Linked DNA regions of Homo sapiens. The protein of the gene in region 1 interacts with the protein of each later gene in a biochemical or structural test. Each region holds a gene or a part of one and is shown in the gene's direction. Other genes may lie near its edges.

The links.
Region 2: of the proteins of HTRA4 (region 1) and CDH5, one has a biochemical effect on the other in vitro, tested with the Homo sapiens proteins (one study listed by IntAct).

Annotation. Positions count from the first base shown.
Region 1 is NC_000008.11:38,969,709-38,977,800, forward strand, and holds the start of HTRA4 (serine protease HTRA4 precursor), read left to right. Parts: upstream 1-4,519; 5' UTR 4,520-4,555; coding exon 4,556-5,021; intron 5,022-5,322; coding exon 5,323-5,422; intron 5,423-6,826; coding exon 6,827-7,031; intron 7,032-8,092. Other genes in the region: PLEKHA2 (pleckstrin homology domain-containing family A member 2), read left to right, coding at 1-75. UniProt on the Homo sapiens protein: Serine protease.
Region 2 is NC_000016.10:66,388,974-66,399,773, forward strand, and holds part of CDH5 (cadherin-5 preproprotein), read left to right. Parts: intron 1-384; coding exon 385-549; intron 550-1,402; coding exon of another isoform or gene 1,403-1,429; coding exon 1,430-1,617; intron 1,618-3,162; coding exon 3,163-3,410; intron 3,411-7,085; coding exon 7,086-7,228; intron 7,229-9,008; coding exon 9,009-9,133; intron 9,134-9,482; coding exon 9,483-9,588; intron 9,589-10,800. UniProt on the Homo sapiens protein: Cadherins are calcium-dependent cell adhesion proteins. They preferentially interact with themselves in a homophilic manner in connecting cells; cadherins may thus contribute to the sorting of heterogeneous cell types.

The DNA of each region.
Region 1 (8,092 bases):
GAGCCCCAGCACCCCAAGGAGAAGCCGTTTATGTTCAACCTTGATGATGAAAACATACGGACCTCTGATGTGTGATGGAGCACAGTGCCATGGGAGGGAGGGAGGGAGGGAGGACTTGAGAGAAGGAGGCTGTGACTCAGTTTCTCTACCTTGTTGGAGGGTAGTCAGAGGCCTTTATGTCACTCATATTCCTGTGGATGCTCTTTGGGAGGGAGGGGCCCATCCAGCTGGGCTGTGTGTGTGTGTGTGTGTGTGTGTGTGTGTGTGTGTAATATCAACGCAGTGTATTTAATTTGGGGAAGTCACTAGGTTAGAACTGTAGGCATACTCAGTGGAGAGGAAGCTACCTATTCTATTCTAACTATTCTGAGGTCTTCCTGGAGAGGGATTGTTTTAGCAGCTCCTCTCCAGAGGGGGCTGGAAGTCCAGTTTCACCAATGACCAAGTTTTATTTCCTTGTCCTTGTTTTAGTTTTTTCATTTTGTTTTCAGTCCAGGTGCCTCGCAGCTCTTTTGGAATGGGCCAGCATTAGTCTAATTTTAAGCGCTATGTGTTTTGTACCCTTGCAAACTTGCTTTCTCTTTCTTCTTGCTGTTGCCCTTTGAATGAAGCCTTGTGTGCTTGCATGATCAGACCCTGTAATAGGATGAATTTCCATGCACTTAACATGAAGAGATACAAAAAGAATCTAGAGAGAGATATATATTTTTAATGAAATAGAAGCTTGGCATAGAAACATTGATTTAGATGTTATGAGTTGCTGGCCAGAGATTCCTCAGATAAAAGAGCCTAGAAAATTGAGTTTTGAGCGGGCATGGTGGCTCACGCCTGTAATGCCAGTAGTTTGGGAGGCTGAGGCGGGTGGATCACCTGAGGTCAGGAGTTCGAGATCAGCCTGGCCAACATGGTGAAACCCCGCCTCTACTAAAAAATATGCAAAATTAGCCGGGCGTGGTGGTGCAGGCCTGTAATCCCAGCTACTCAGAGGCTGAGGCAGGAGATTCACTTGAACCCAGGAGGTGGAGGTTGCAGTGAGCCAAGATCGCGCCATTGCACTCCAGTCAGGGCAACAAGAGTGAAACTCCGTCTCAAAATATAAAAGAAAATTGAGTGTCCCACCCAAATTTTAGGGCGTACCTCCTTCCATTTGATAAGAAGATGCTATTTCCAGTGTCCCTGGGAGAATTCTTCCATCCAGTTTATATGGTGAATTGCCACCAGCGTTCCCTAAAGGAAGAGAGAACTTAGCTTATTTCTGTCTGTGACTTTTATCAGCTAGATCAGTTAATTGTATTTTTAAATTAAAAATTAGTAACTAGAGGAAGAGACTAAGAGAACTATTTTTACCTGAGTAAATGCTCTCCTCTTCTTGTGTCCAAATCTAATGCAGAGGTGAAAACACTTGATGAGAAAATCCTTTGTGGCTTGAGGGGAATCATGTTTCTTTCAGGACGTGTTGTTTCCCTGAAGTCTATGTCACACTGAGAACTTTTTCTGACTGCACTGCTTTGGAGCTATTCATTTAAATTGAGTTTGGCCTAGTTTTCCTGGTATAAAACAGGAAATCTACATTGTTCCCTCTTTCTCTCCCTTCCATCCCTTCCCCTGCCTTTCCTATACACGCTGGTGTGCTTTTGCCCTCAGAAATTCTTGGTTTGGGAGTTATGTATTTTTGAGTGATCGAGGTTATGACATACTTGGAGCGGCATGATTTCAAGAAGCCATTCCAAATTCTTATAGCTCCTTAGCTCTGGTTTTACTCTCGTATTTTCCCCAAGAAAATTTTTTGGCTATTCAAAGAAAGCACAAAATATGTGATGTGGAACTCATGAAAATAGGGACTTTTGATATCTCTTTAAATATTCCCTGACTCACGGAAAAGATGTCCTCTTTTGGTGTATACATTGTGAAAATCTACCCATTTATCTCTCTCTCTCTCTTTTCTTTTAAATAAATTATCTGATAAGGCCGGCAAGGTGGCTCACGCCTGTAATCCCAGCACTTTGGGAGGCCGAGGCGAGCGGATCACGAGGTCAGGAGATCGAGACCGCGGTGAAACCCCGTCTCTACTAAAAATACGAAAAAAAAATTAGCCGGGCGCAGTGGCAGGCGCCTGTAGTCCCAGCTACTTGGGAGGCTGCGGCAGGAGAATGGTGTGAACCTGGGAGGCGGAGCTTGCAGTGAGCCAAGATCGCGCCACTGCACTCCAGCCTGGGCGACAGAGCAAGACTCCATCTCAAAAAAAAAATTATCTGATAGGTTACTATTGCTAAATTAATTGGCCATTATAATAAGCTGATTTGTTTCTTATTCAGCAAGATCTCTTTTGAGAATGTGACAAATTAAACATACATAGAATCCATATGGTATTATCCTGATAAAGGGAAACGAGGACACTAAGACTGTCAAATGGAAATCTTCTTGTCAATTGGCAAACACTTGGGAATTCCACATTAGAGCATTGCTTGTTTTTAATTTTTTTTTTTTAATTTTTAAAAGACAGGGTCTCACTCTCTTACCCAGGCTAGAGTGCAGTGGTGTGATCATAGTTCATCATAACTTTGAATCTCTGGGCTTAAGCAATCCTCCCATGTTAGCTTCCCAAGTAGCTAGGACTACAGGGTTGTGCTACCACGCCTGGCTAATTTTTAATTTTTTTTTATCTACAGAGCCTGGCTATGTTGCCCAGGCTCTCTCAAACTCCTGGCCCAAGTGATCCTCCTGCCTTGGCCTCCTAAAGTGTTGGGATTACAGGTGTGAGCCACTGCACCTAGCCAGAACATCGTTAATGTAGTTCAATATGAGATAAATTATTATCTTCAATGAAACAAGCTCTAAAAGCATTCCATTCCTAAATTGTATTTCAAACTTCCTATTTTGTTGATATTTCTTAACTTCTGGCCAGTTTTGGACCATAATCTTTTAATGTGAACCAAAGATGGTACGTATTTGACCAAAGCAGTTAGTTTTAAATGTATAAAATTGAACCAAATGGAAAAAATAGGTTGGGGATGCAGTATAGATTAGTGACTAAGTGCATAGGCTCTGGAGTAAATCTGAGTTTTTTTTTTTTTAAAGGAACTAAAAAATGTACTGCATTTTCTTTGTGGAATAAAAGCCTTGCCTGAGTTGTGCTATTTTCATAAGGCTTTTGAAGTGGTCTTGACCCACTGTGTGTAACAGTATTTCAGGTGGTCCTCCCCATGGCTGAATAATGCCATCCATTATTCTTTAATTTTTATTTTTAGAAACAGTGTTTCACTCTGTCACCCAGGCTGGAGTGCAGTGGCCTGATCATGGCTCACTGCAGCCTGGACCTCCTGGGCTCAAGTGATCTTCCTGCCTCACAGCCTCCCAAAGTACTCAGATTATAGGTGTGAGCCACCACGCCTGGCCACCATCTATTACTTTTGAAATCTTCAAAAGACTTGCTTACTCAATGTCAGCTGATGGTTGGTAAAAATAATTTGGCCTTTAGTGTTAAGTGAGACATCATAAGGGTATTGAGGTATACATTATGGAGATTGATGTCAGGTCAGAATATTGGAGTTATACATCTATTTCTGAGTTGAATACTCAGCTCCCACGAGAAAGAAAGTAGTTTTAAGGTCCAGCTTCTTAGTCTACTTGAAGCAAATTTTTTTTCTTTTATATTTCTGAATATAAATATACTCTTATATGGGCTAAAAAGACCCCATGAATAAATAGCAGGTTCAGTAGTTGAGGAGTGGAGTTTAGTAGGTTTGTTTTCAGTATAAATTAGATAACATGTGGAGGTCACAGCATTTTGGAAATTGAGTGTCCCCAAGTGAGCTTTGTTTATAAACTTTCAAAATGTCGGAAGTGGACAGGTTTGTTAAATCTTGTCTGCCAGCACCCTTTTCTTCCTTTGTTCCTTTTCCTCTCTGTGTTATTGCCTGCGGCAGCCAGTCCTTCATACTAGATAGAGTTCAGATAAAGCAAACGTTTGGCAAAAACATACTGTTTGACCTCCTCCCCCTCTGCTTATGAAGGGGTAGCATGATTCTGTGTTTTAAAGCAGTGATGTTTCAGCTGTGAAATGCACTCGCTGTAAGCTCTAGGCTGAGTGCATGGAAACTGTTACGCTTCTCATTTTATGTGATCTCCTAATTGGTATGTAGCAAAAATTTTCTAAAACTGTTTTGTGGCTTGTTTTGTAATAAAACCATGTGAAATACTGAAATATGGTCATGTGTTTTCCTAATACTGACCTTCTGACCATGGGTGGGTGAGCTTTCTTATCAGTCTGCCCTCATTGTCGGTTTTAGGGATTTCAGGAGGTAGGTTCCTGCTCCGGGTAGGGCTAGAGACCTTCCCCTCATTGCCTGGGGGAGAACCTGGCTCCGGGGCGCCGACGGGGGCGGGTGGTAGGGGATGTACGGGTGTGTATATGCAGAGGTATGCCAGGCTCTGCCCCTTAAAGTTTGGGGGCCGGCGGAGGCGGCGCCGTGGCCGGGAGAAAGTGTCTCTCATTTAGGAGGGTTTGCAGGTCCAGAGTAAAGTCACTGAAGAGTGGAAGCGAGGAAGGAACAGGATGATTAGACCTCAGCTGCGGACCGCGGGGCTGGGACGATGCCTCCTGCCGGGGCTGCTGCTGCTCCTGGTGCCCGTCCTCTGGGCCGGGGCTGAAAAGCTACATACCCAGCCCTCCTGCCCCGCGGTCTGCCAGCCCACGCGCTGCCCCGCGCTGCCCACCTGCGCGCTGGGGACCACGCCGGTGTTCGACCTGTGCCGCTGTTGCCGCGTCTGCCCCGCGGCCGAGCGTGAAGTCTGCGGCGGGGCGCAGGGCCAACCGTGCGCCCCGGGGCTGCAGTGCCTCCAGCCGCTGCGCCCCGGGTTCCCCAGCACCTGCGGTTGCCCGACGCTGGGAGGGGCCGTGTGCGGCAGCGACAGGCGCACCTACCCCAGCATGTGCGCGCTCCGGGCCGAAAACCGCGCCGCGCGCCGCCTGGGCAAGGTCCCGGCCGTGCCTGTGCAGTGGGGGAACTGCGGGGATACAGGTGAGCCGCGGGGGCGCGCGCCCTCGGAACACTTTCTAACTCTGGAGGAGCGTAAAGGAACAAGACCTCACTGAGACCGCACAGTTCGCGCCTGGTCCTCCTGCGTCATTTGCCTCCTGGATTCGACACCTCTGTGTTCCTGATTTCCTTTCCTCCTTAACAGGGGCTCTTTACCGGCTGCTACGTGGTTTCTCCCTCCCCATGCACCTTTTGAACACTGTCTTGCCTTTAACATTTTTCCAACTAGGATAGCAGGTCTGGTTCCCTCGAGGCGTACTCTTGAGCCAGTATTTTTTCATAGGGACCAGAAGCGCAGGCCCGCTCAGGAGGAATTACAACTTCATCGCCGCGGTGGTGGAGAAGGTGGCGCCATCGGTGGTTCACGTGCAGCTGTGGGGCAGGTAAAGGAGGAGGAGGAAGACCTCCACTGTCCCAGCTAATGGTTTCTGCGTGCCTACCTGCTCCAGACCCTTCGCAAGCGTCATTTAATCCTAAAAAACCAGTGAGGAAACTGAGACGTAAAGAGGTTGAATAACCTGTTCAAGGTCATTTAACCAAAGAGCAGAGGCACAAGGATGCTGACTTCTAAATCCCAGCTCCCCCTGCCCACTTAGGTGGCTGGTGCTTTTTCCCCCTCCTGCCACAGACAAAATTTAAGGTCAGATATAAGAGCTAGTAGGCAATTTCTTTTCTTTTTTTGAGACAAGGTCTTGCTCTGTCGCCAGGGCTGAAATGCAGTGACAGATCACGGCTCACTGCAGCTCCATCTGCTGGGCTCAAGTAATCCTCCCAACCCAGCCTCTGGAGTAACTGGGACTATAGGCAGGTGCCACCATACCCAGCTAATATTTGTATTTTTTTGTAGAGACGAGGTCTTGTTATATTGCTCAGGCTGGTCTCGAACTCCTGGGCCCAAACGATCTGCCACCTTAGCCTCCCGACGTGCTGGGATTACGGGTGTAGCCACCACATCCAGCTTAGTAGGCATTTTGGTTGTGATCTTGCTCAGCCCCCACTTTGGATACAAGGAAATCCAGACCCAGAGAGCAGGGTTAATTTGTCCTATGTTACTATGTTACGAGGCCAGTTGGCGGTGGAAACTAAGCCAGAATCAGAGCCCTTTGATTCTCTCCTGCCTGGGTCCTTGATACTGTGGTAAGAGGCTGACTTTTGCCTCTAGTATTAGGATTGGGTTCAGTCTTTTCGCAGCAGAGAACCCATGGGCTGCTACACTAACCAGCTCTGAAGAAGCAGTGTCCCTGGAAAAGGAGAGCTGGACCCCACTCTCAACCATGCTCACAAGAGATGGCTGGGGCCCTGTACCTGCCAAGTCCACTGATACATGGAGAAAATTTACGCATAGCCAGGGAAAAGTGAAATGTCTGAGAAAACTGAAGGAAGGCTGGGTACGGTGGCTCATGCCTGTAATCCCAGCACTTTGGGAGGCCGAGGCGGGTGGATCACCTGAGGTCAGGCGTTCGAGAGCAGCCTGGCCAACATGGTGAAACCCCATCTCCACTAAAAATACAAAAATTAGCCAGGCGTGGTGGTGCATGCCTGTTATCCCAGCTACTTGGGAGGCTGAGGCAGGAGCCTGGGAGGTGGTTGCAGTGAGCCGAGATTGCGCCACTGCACTCCAGCTTGGGCAACAGAGCGAGATTCTGTCTCAAAAAAGAAAAAAGAAAAGAAAAGAAAACTATGATGGAGGTATGTTTAATAAGAGTGAGGTTCCCATGACTCAGATTATATGGCTGTATCCCCTAACTTTCTTGCCCTCTGTTTACACTATTGTCTTGTGGAGACAGGTTACTTCACGGCAGCAGGCTTGTTCCTGTGTACAGTGGCTCTGGGTTCATAGTGTCTGAGGACGGGCTCATTATTACCAATGCCCATGTTGTCAGGAACCAGCAGTGGATTGAGGTGGTGCTCCAGAATGGGGCCCGTTATGAAGCTGTTGTCAAGGATATTGACCTTAAATTGGATCTTGCGGTGATTAAGATTGAATCAAATGTGAGTATTTCAGGGCTGAGTCAGAGTCTACATATTTGGGGATTTTTATCTATTTGCTGATATTTTCTGCCCCACTACACTCTCACACCACATCTTTTCTGTTGAATATATGCTTTTCTCTGGTTTCTTTCTGTTCTTTACTCCCTCTTTTATTTATTTGCTTCAACGCCTTTCTGTATATCCCTAACCGTTTCTTTCTTTTCTTTCTTTTTTTTTGAAACAGTCTCCCTCTGTCACCCAGGCTGGAGTACAGTGGCTCAATCTCAGCTCACTGCAACCTCTGCCTCCTGGGTTCAAGTGATTCTCCTGCCTCAGCTTCCTGAGTACCTGGGATTACAGGTGCCTGCCACCACGCCTGGCTAATTTTTGTACTTTTAGTAGAGACTGGGTTTTACCATGTTGGCCAGGCTGGTCTCGAACTCCTGACCTCAAGTGATCCGCCCGCTTCGGCCTCCCAAAGTGCTGGGATTACAGGTGTGAGCCACTGCGCTTGGCCTCTAACTGTTTCTATTAACTATCAAGCAGTCTTTTTTTTTTTTTTTTCCTCCTTCAACAAATGCTGCTTCAGGGAAAATTATTTCTCTACTTGTCTTAGGATATCAGAAATTACTGCGATGGACTCAAAGTTGCTAAGGAATACTTTGAAGTCCTTCCTACACATAGTACTGGTAGTCTGCACATCACATATATTGACATGGTGTCTGAGAGCTTTTTAGAAGTTCAGAGTCTCAGCCTTTACCCAGATAGATGTGCTGACTCAGAATCTGCATTAACATAACATCCCTAGGTGATTTGCATGCACATTACAGTGTGAGAAGTGTCACCCTGGGTGATCTCCTTTCTGTTTGTGGCTTATTCACTTTGACTGTTAAGCTTTGAGCTGGAATGGTGCTGTGTAAATTCCTAATGTCAGTTTATGTTCATCAGTGACTTCACTGGCTGTTTACTAATAGTAATTTCTACAAAGTAATTGTTTTAGATCTTAGAAATGATCCTAGTCATCTTAACACTCAAGAGCTTCATGGTAGTTGGACTTTGAGGAAGAAGTAGAAGGCAATCAT
Region 2 (10,800 bases), on another chromosome or scaffold:
CAAGAAAGAAGTCCAGTGGAACTGTCTTTCAGAGAGATGGCAAATACATAGCACAGATGCCACTACTATGCTACAGTGCACCAAGGCAGACATCACTAATCTATCACAGCACTCTTTCCATCTGAGCCTAGATATGGCCTCATGGTCTTTGTCAACACAATATTTCAGGTGGCGAGGACCAATACCGAACCCAACTATTGGGCCAGCTTTGGCCTCACAGTATAGGCTATGGAGGTAGTGGGTTGTAGACTCACAGTTCTCAGCCCCATTTGCACAGTGGAATCACCAGGGAAGCTCTTAAGTCAGGTTCTCTCTGGGCAGGCCCTAGGCATCGGTATTTTCTAGAAGCTGGTAACATGGTTCCTGCTGGGAATCTTTTTGCAGGACGTATTATCACAATAACGAAAAGCTTGGACCGAGAGAAGCAGGCCAGGTATGAGATCGTGGTGGAAGCGCGAGATGCCCAGGGCCTCCGGGGGGACTCGGGCACGGCCACCGTGCTGGTCACTCTGCAAGACATCAATGACAACTTCCCCTTCTTCACCCAGAGTGAGCCCCTCCTCTAGGGCCCTGGGAAGGGGGGCTGGGATACCCCAGACTCAGTGACTTGGGGCTCTGGGAAAAGAGTTACAAATCACTTTACCTCTCCCTCTATCCCAGGGTAGGCCTGATGCCCAAAGGAGTCCTTTGGGTGAAGGGAGGGGCCCTGCTTCCATCCCAATACCACATTCCCAAGGCCATCCTGCCGCCCCCTGCCACAATCCCCTCATAGGCCAGAGGGAAATCCCACTCCCTGCTGGGTGCCACCACTGTACTGTGTCCCACCATGAGACACAAGCAGTTTCACCCAGATCCCATGGGCTTGGGAAAATCAAAGCCCTGAGACTCAGGTCCCAGCTAGAAATTCCCACAAGCCAGTGAACATGGGGACAGCAAAGTTCTATATCCAGAGCCAGGGCTGGGCCCTGACCCCACCTACACACTGATCCACCCCACAGAGAATGTCTAATGAGAGCTTTTCCCATGCCTGGGGCAGATGGCTCTCCACTTGCAACTCCCAGTGCTGATACTGTCATTCAGTTGTTCAGCCACCCTAGAGACAGGCCAATTGTCCTGAAGTGGCTTCCTCGTACATGGCATAAGCTCCCTGAAGGCAGGACTTGTCTCTCTTGTCCATTGATAGGTCCCCTAGCAAAGTGCCTGGCATACAATAGGTGCTCAATAGCTATTTATTGGATGGAGGGATGGATGGATGGACATACAGATAGGGAAGACCCTCTTTACCTTGAGAATCCCAGGGGTATTATTATTTATGATTATTTTATTATGCCCATTTCTTTTATCAAAATATGTTAGAATAGCTGAAAGAGGCAATCGCCTTGTCTATCTCATTAACCCAAAGCCCTTTGGGGTGCTCTGTTTGCATCAGCCAAGTACACATTTGTCGTGCCTGAAGACACCCGTGTGGGCACCTCTGTGGGCTCTCTGTTTGTTGAGGACCCAGATGAGCCCCAGAACCGGATGACCAAGTACAGCATCTTGCGGGGCGACTACCAGGACGCTTTCACCATTGAGACAAACCCCGCCCACAACGAGGGCATCATCAAGCCCATGAAGGTTTGTAGGCCAATGGCAACAATGTCAAACGTGAGGCTTGGGGCTCTTGGCACCCACAGGTCCTGCTTGGGGATTGCTCCTGGGCCAGAGACCATCAAAGGACCATCAAAGCTCCAAGGTGGTCATGTGTTCATGGAGACTGTGATCCAGTGTCTTAGGCCGAGTTACTTGGGAAGCAAATCTTAAGGCCATGACTGGGTGTAAATTGTTTATCTGGGAGGTGATCCCAGGAAGCCCCAGGAGCAATGACCCACTGCGGGGTAAGTGTGGAACACATCCCAGAGTTGGAGAAGCTGAGGGTGAAGGAGCTGGGGTATTTATACACCCGCTGTCCGTGGTGTTGACTGGGGGCTGCCCCTGGAGTTATTACCTCTCTGGCACTTTCTGGCCTGCCATGTGTCCTGGCCAGTAGAAATCCATCAGCATGAAGAAAACAGTGAGTAATTGTGGTGACATGGATGGCCACTGACACTGGATGCTGCTGACAGCCAGAGAAGCCAGATTAACTGAATCTGGAAGAGGAGGGAGAGGTCCTGTGAGGGGCATAAAAAATGCCTCTGGAATGGCCATGCAGAGGATTGCAAGTCCTGGGCCTGAGTCCTTCTCTGAACCAGCCCCATGCTGGGGCTTGGAAACACCAAGGAGAGGCAGACACAGCCTCCAGTGTCAGCAAAGGTCTCAGCGAATGGGGAAGACATATGCATGAACAAAAAAAGTACAGCCAGGTGTAAGTGATACACAGCAGCTCTGAACAGGGAGCAATTACCTCTGCTAGGAGGGGTTTCTGAGAGAGCATCTGATTACCTTCTGCTTGGCTTCCTGAGGGATGAGTAGGAGTTTTCTAGGCAGGCAAGGGCAGGAGAAGGATCTTGAGCAAAGGCATAAAGAAAAAGCATGTCCGGCCGGGCCCGGTGGTTCACGCCTCTAATCCCAGCACTTTGTGAGGCCGAGGCAGGTGGATCACCTGAGGTCAGGAGTTTGAGACCAGCCTGGCCAATATGGTGAAACCCCGTCTCTACTAAAAATACCAAAATTAGCTGGGCGTGGTGGCAGGTGCCTGTAATCCCAGCTACTTGGAAGGCTGAGGCAGGAGAATCGCTTGAACCTGGGAGGTGGAAGTTGTAGTGAGCGGAGGTCGTGCCATTGCACTCCAATCTGGGTACCAAGAGCAATATTCTGTCTCAAGAACAAAGAAAAAGCCTGTCCTTAAGGACCTGTGGGTAGAACCACTAGTGACGCTCTTAAGAGCAGGACCATAGTTGATCCATTCTATGTCCCAAACGCTGGAAATAGGGCCAGGCACACAGCCAGGGTTGTGGGTGTGGCCATGAGGCTGCTGAGATGAAATGGGGAGCAGCTGAAGACAGACACCAGGCCCAGCCGCTGTCTTGATGACCTCAGAAATATCACTTGTCGAGGCCATGGGCCCCTCATCTATAAAATGGGTGTCATCCTGGTACTACCTTGCATAGTTGCTGTGCAGATCATGTGCCACACACATGCTTGGCCCAGAGCAGGCACTCACCATCCTTTTTCCTTACGCAGCCTCTGGATTATGAATACATCCAGCAATACAGCTTCATCGTCGAGGCCACAGACCCCACCATCGACCTCCGATACATGAGCCCTCCCGCGGGAAACAGAGCCCAGGTCATTATCAACATCACAGATGTGGACGAGCCCCCCATTTTCCAGCAGCCTTTCTACCACTTCCAGCTGAAGGAAAACCAGAAGAAGCCTCTGATTGGCACAGTGCTGGCCATGGACCCTGATGCGGCTAGGCATAGCATTGGGTAAGGGGGCGTGTGTCGATGAGAATGATAAGGACAATCCGGCCTGGATGTTCCTATGCCTGCTGGTCTGAGGCCAGGACTCAGAGAGGGGAACTGGCTTCTCCTAGCACTTACAGGGAAAGTGACAGAGGCAAGACCAGAAGCCCAAGCTCTTGCACTTGGCAGCCTGGCATCTTGACCTGCCTGGACTCCCCCACCTAGCATGGTCCTGGGCATCCAGAGCTACTTGTCCTCTGTCCGGCCTTGAAGGCTTATTCTCTGCACCACAGCTCTCACCAGTCCTATGTGGTAAGATCTGACAGTCAAGAAAGCAACCAATCAGACGACACACCAGAGGCCCCTTCACTAAAACTGTATTCTTGAATCTATCTTCCCCAAACCACAAAAGTAAGAAGTGTTCATTTTATACAGTGAAACAACACAGAGATCTACCAAGAAAACACTGATAACCCCCACTCTCAGATAACTCATGTTCGTGGCCTAACCTGGTCCTATTGCTCCTTTCTTTTCGTGACCACACAAACATGTGGATGCATTTATGGTGGGTTTGTTGTTGTCTGTTTGCTTTTGATGTTTGATTGTTTTAAAATTTTTTTGGATCATGCCATGCTGGTTTCATCGATATTTGCTCTTCTATCTTAACTAAATTTCTCTTTTACAATCTTTAGAAAAAAATGATATAGTTCCAACAGATACTTTTTAGAGCCATATAATATGCAATAGTAAGTATAAATTCAATTCAATCTTATTTTATTGTAGATGCATAGCTGATTTTGCCAGCACCATTTACTAAATATTATAATAATAAGTCATCGTTTTCCCACCTTCATTATATACTAAGTTTTCTGTATATACCTGTATCTACTTCTAATTCTCTGTCCTATCCATCATTCTATAGCAAAGCTATTCTGTTTTATTCTACTAGCTTGTATAAGTCCATTCTCCTATAAAGAAATAGTTAAGACTGGGTAATTTATAAAGAAAAGAGGTTTAACAGGAAGTATAGTGGCTTCTCCTTCTGGGGAGGCCTCAGAAAACTTACAGTCCTGGGGAAGCAGGCACGTCTTACACGGCCAGAACAGGAGTGGGAAGGGAGTTGTTACACACTTTTCAACAACCTGGTCTCATGATAACTCACTAGCTTGAGAACAGAACCTAGGGGATGGAGCTAACCCATTCATGAGAACTCTGTCCCATGGTCTATCCACCTCCCACCAGGGCCCACCTCCAACACTGGGGATTACATTTCAACATGAGATTCGGTGGGGACACAGATCCAAACCATATAGCTTTACACTAGATCTTAGATATACATAAAAGTCCTTCCCATGTTGCTTTTTTATTTGATATAATTTTTTGTCAACTCTCATTTTTTCTTTTGTGAAATTTAAAATTTTGTATCCAGGTTTTTTAAACATTAGAATTCTAGTGTTTATATATTAATTTTGGTATAGCTAATGTTTCAAGGGTATTAAGTCTTCTTATTAAGGACAAAATATGTTCTTCCATTTTGGCCTCATATCCTAAGTTTTGGGACTACTCTTCATTGCCATTCTTTTCTAAATAGCCTGTAATTATAATTTTTGTTTCTCCTTTGATCCAAGGGTTTATTTAAGAGATTGACTTGATTTCTTTATTTTCATTTATAAGTCATAGGGTGTTTTTTTTGTTTTGCTTTAGCTTGTTCTGTGATGTGATACAATTGTATTTGTGTCCACTTCTTCCTAGAATATCTAAGTTTTGACTTTATGTATTTAAATTTTTCTATTCAGTTAACAAAGGTTTGCAACTATTTTACCTTCATTATGGTTTGTAACTTTCATCCAAATGTAATTAGCCAATTTGTTCTGCTTAAATATTTTGCCTTTAATTCTGTTTCCTGATGTTACATTTGTTAGTCCTGTTTTCATGTTATTCATATACGCCTAATGCAAATTTTACAACCTTTACTTTTAATTTTTCCAGGTCATTTGGCATTAAGTTGTCTCTTGAAAACAAGAATGCATTTGGCTTTGCTTTTTAATCTAAACTGAAATGCTTTGTGTTTAACCTATTTACATTTTTCATCATAATTGATATGTTTGATGTTCCTTCTTTTATCTTGTTTTACATTTCTCATTTATCAAATTTAATGGCTTTTTTCTTTTTCCTCATCTTTGCTATACAGTCTATGTTTCTTTATTTTTTTTTTCTCCTAGATATTTGGATGAGGTGCATCCATTTTTATTTCTACCAGTGAGATTTACTTCTATCTGCAAAATTTAAAATGTTTTCTTGGACCTATATTTTCTAGTTAAAACTATTATAGACATACACACACCCATTGCTTTTCTATGTATGATAAAAAAAATCAATAGTTTTGTTTTAATTCTTCCCATGCCAGGTTTTTACTTTATATTGAGATGTTTAGTTAGATACAGTAAGTTTTCAAAAAAAAATTCAGGACACAAATATCTTAGTTCTTTGCCTTTTTTGGGGGGTGGGGGGGACAGGTTCTTCCTCTGTCACCCAGGCTAGAGTGCAGTGGCACAACCATAGCTCACTACAGCCTTGAACATCTAGGCTGAAGCAACCCTCCCACCTCAGCCTCTGAGTATCTGGGACTACAGGCACACACCACCACACCAGGCTAATCTTTTTTTTTTTTTTTTTTTTTTTTTTTTTTTTTTTTTTTTTTTTTGGTGAGACAGGGTCTCACTCTGTCACCTGGGCTGGGCTGGTCTTGAACTCCTGGCCTCAAGCAAACCTCCAGCTTCAGCCTCTCCCAAAGCACTCAAATTACAGATGTGAGCCACCATGCCCAACCTTGCCTTCTAATAACACCTAGATGTATTCGTATAATCCTCAGATTATAAACACTTCCCTTCAAAAATACTATCAATGTATTCTAGTATTTAATTTTGTGGGGGCATCTGAGGCAAATCTGATTTTTCTTTCCTCATAAGGAAATTATTTCTTTCTGTCTGGACTCTTTTCAGTTTCTTCACACAGCCTTGAAATTCGTAAGTGTCGTCAGGATTTGCCTAAGTATTGGGGTTTTTTTCAATGATGCCTGATGTCAATGACATCTTATAATGTGTAGACTCAAGCCTTTCTTCAGATCAGGAAACTTTTCTTTTCTTTTTTTTTTTTTTTTTTTTTGTTATTTCTTCTGTTCTGTTTGTTCTGGGATTTTCCTCATTAATAGCAACTATTATTCCTATATACACAAAACATATATATTTATCTTTCCATAGATTTTTCCTGATTTCTGAAAGAACTTTTTAAGTTTTTTATTTCACAAAGTTAATTTCTTTGTAATTACTTCTTATCTCTTCCAGCTCTTTTTGTATTCCTTCCTGGCTCTTGCCCAATGATCTTTTCATTAATCACTAAAACAAGTCCCAGCTATGGTGTGATGTCACCTGTTCAGCTCTGAAAGTGCATCTGATGGTCTCAGGTACCACCTCCAGTCCAGTGATGGCAATGTAACTAAGATCAAAGACATTATCTTGCTATCCTGAATCCCTCTGTGTAGGTCCACTCTTGTCTGAGTGGCAGAGTGCAATGAGCAGTGAGAGAGGGGCATGGAGTGGGATGCAGGGGACAGATGCAGAAGGGCCTTGTCCATCATGCTGAGGAGTGTAGACTCAGCAAAGAACAATGGAAAGCCATGAAACTCTCTCCCCTGGGCAGATACTCCATCCGCAGGACCAGTGACAAGGGCCAGTTCTTCCGAGTCACAAAAAAGGGGGACATTTACAATGAGAAAGAACTGGACAGAGAAGTCTACCCCTGGTATAACCTGACTGTGGAGGCCAAAGAACTGGATTCCACTGGTGAGTGGCCACATCTGCCAGGGCACCTGGATTCTTTTCCTTTTCCCTCATTCTTCCAAAACTGGCATAATCAATAATTTGGGGTCTCTAGACGTATTAGAAGTGCCTGCTGAAGCACCCGCTGGTTGGGATGCTATAGAGCTCCCATGCCCAAGTGTGGTCCTTGAACCCAGCAGTATCAACATCCCCTGAGACCTTGTTGCATCTCGGGCCTCACCCCCACACTGAATCGGAATCTCATGCATGTCACAGTTTGAAAACCACTGTCATGAAACAGGCTGTGCAGATGTCTCTGTGACGAGAATCACCCAAGTCACCTATTAAGCATAAAGCTCTACTCCACCCTGCAGGTTCTGGTCCAGTGAGCCAGAGATGTGCATTTAACAAGGGTCCCATGATTCTTAGTTATCATGGCTGTTTGGGAAATGTTCCTTCAGAGGGTGTTTATGCACCAGTTAATAGGTAGAATTCAAAATGTGAAGCAGCTTCCAATTTTGAGATTGTGAGTTTCTCTAGAAATTGTGTAATTTTTGCCAGAGGGAGGGGCAAGAGTTGGAGTTTTGCATCCTCTATCTATATTAGAAAATCACAATCACCCTCCAGGAGAACTATTAATACTCCCACTTTACCCAGGAGCCCGCTAGGCCAAGGATCCCTGGCGCCTGCCGGGCCCACCCAGACTCACTTCTGCCAACACAGCTGCTGCCCCAAACTGTAATGGACTCCTGCATGTTTGGCCAGATCAGTCTTTGCTTCTTTCTCCTCCACATAATCCCATTCATAGACTCTTTACATTTAAATGGTTTAAAATACGGAAAATACAGAAAATGAGAAGAAAATACTCCTCCCACCAATGCCACCATGCAGAGACAGTTACTATTAGCACATTCATGTATTTTTATTTTTATACATATTTTTATACTTACATGAGATTGTAATGTTTGTGTAAGATATTATATTCCACATTTTTACTTAACCTTTACTTAACCTTATTCCAGAACCACTTTCTCATGGTACTAATTTTTTTTTTAAGAGAGAAACAGGGTCTCACTCTGTTGTCCAGGATGAAGTGCAGTGGCACGATCACAGCTCACTGCAGCCTCTAATTCCTGAGTTCAAATGATCCTCCCACCTCAGCCTCCTGAGCAGCTGGGACTACAGGCGTGCACCACATTGCCCAGCAAATGTCTTAATTTTTTTTGTAGAGATGGGGTCTCACCATGTTTCCCAGGCTTGTCTCCAACTCTGGGCCCCAAGCAATCCTCCCTTCTAGGCCTTTCAAAGTATGAAATTACAGGGGTGAGCCACAGCACCTGGCCTTAAAATTTTTTTTAATTATATGTTTAAGATGTAAGTGACATAGGCATTGTCAGTGGCCATCCATTTCAGTCTTTTCCGGTAGCCTAGTTTACTGACCCAATCTCACTTAGGTTGTTTACCTTTTCAATTCTTTTATGATTAATTTATTATGTTTTATGTATTTAATCAAATAATTAAATTTTTAATTTTAGGAATTTAATTACAATTTTTTTAATGCACTTAGGTGGTTTACCTTTTTGATTCTCATAATCAAAGTAATACCTCAGTAAACCTTATGGATGAGATTTAACACCTCCCCCCACCAAACTCCTTTTATCCAGAACACCATCCTGGGCCTCTGTTCCACAGCCTCCTCCTGCAAAAAGTGGCCTCCATAGGGCAGCCCTCCTTCCACACATCTTCCACCGCCCAAGGCCAGCATCAGCTGAGCCCATAATGGTGACAGTCTTCTCCCCTGCAGGAACCCCCACAGGAAAAGAATCCATTGTGCAAGTCCACATTGAAGTTTTGGATGAGAATGACAATGCCCCGGAGTTTGCCAAGCCCTACCAGCCCAAAGTGTGTGAGAACGCTGTCCATGGCCAGGTGAGTCTGGTTCAGGTGGGAGGGGAAGGCAGCACCACCCTGGGGCAGGCTGGGGGGCAGAACTGCTCAACAGAGTCAGCAGGAGTTCCCCTGTACAATAGCCTTGAGGAAAATAACATTATGCCCATTTTACAGATGGAGAAACTGAGGCTCAGAGGGAATATATGGGGAGTAGATTGGCGGGGCAGGGAAGTAGAAAGAATGGCTTTATGAAGAACTAAATAGGTGAGTGTTGCAGGTGGGAAACAGCCATGGTCAGGACTTAAACCCAAAGGCTCCATCGCTAAACCTCAGACCACCCCACCACCCCACCACCATCACTGACCATCTCCTGTCTTCCACACTCCAGCTGGTCCTGCAGATCTCCGCAATAGACAAGGACATAACACCACGAAACGTGAAGTTCAAATTCATCTTGAATACTGAGAACAACTTTACCCTCACGGATAATCACGGTAGGCATCAAAGTAATCAGTTCAGCTGGGCGTGATGACCCACACCTGTAGTCTCAGCTACTCAGGAGGCTGAGGCAGGAAGATCGCTTGAGCCCAGGAGTTTGAGGCTGCAGTGAGCTATGATCACATCACTGCACTCCAGCCCGGGCGACAGAGCGAGACCCCGTCTCCAAAAAAAGAACAAATGCAGTCAGTTGGCTCTAACAGGGTCGGGGTGAGGTTATTTGAGTCTTGAGGCACCAAGGTCAAAGACCAGGCCAACAAATTGAGGGCAGGCTCCCACTGGGATTTTCAAATCATTAGATATTTTGTACAATTTCTGCCACATACATTGTACAATTGGTCTATGCAATGGTCAGAGACACTCCATCCAAACTCCCAAGTCCACGTCGCCTGCAAGGAGCCAGCGAGGAGTACAGAACAGATGTGAGGATGCAGGCAGTCAGCTCAGTTCAAGAACTAGCCAAGGAGTCCCCTCCCATACTGGAGGCTCTATGGGTCAGCAAAACTGCACATTAAACATGGAACTTTGAGGTCATTCCCAAAGAGTCAAAACTGGAAATGTGAAATCCTAAATCCCAAGGATCCAGTGAGCTTTGTTTTAATTCAGCTACAACGATTACTCACGATTAGCAGGGTGGCCCGTGTGATGGCATTAGCAGCCAATCAGAGCTTCTGAGGAGTAGGTGCTGACTTAAGTGATGATGCTGAGTTGACTTCATTCCAGCCACAAGTAGGCAAGCTTCCATGGCCTCTGAAATTTCCTCAAAAAAATAGAGAAAATTCCCCTTGGGTTTAAATAGAGTGATCCTTCACCTAGCATGGGATGGAATTCCTGCCTGTCCCTAATGGGCAAAACTATGGTGGATGAGGATGGCTGTATTGCAGCAGCCCATTACTACATTTAAGGAAGACTGGGGAGTGGGGTCCCTGAAAGTTGGAGGCAGACTTGAGGGATCAACCACAGACCAGTCCTTAAGGAGACTCCTGTGGGATGGAGAAGGTGGCCCTGATGTGTTGACAGTCAATGACAGACCATTCAACACCCAGTTGTCATTAGAAGTAAATAATGTGGCAAAAATGTCACCCCCTCCCCAATGTCCACCTCAGTCCCATCTCAGAGTGGGGATCTGCAATACAGTAGAAAGATTCAGTGCCACCCCAAAGACACCCATATACAATAGGAGGCAAGTCTGTTGGTGTCAAATTCAC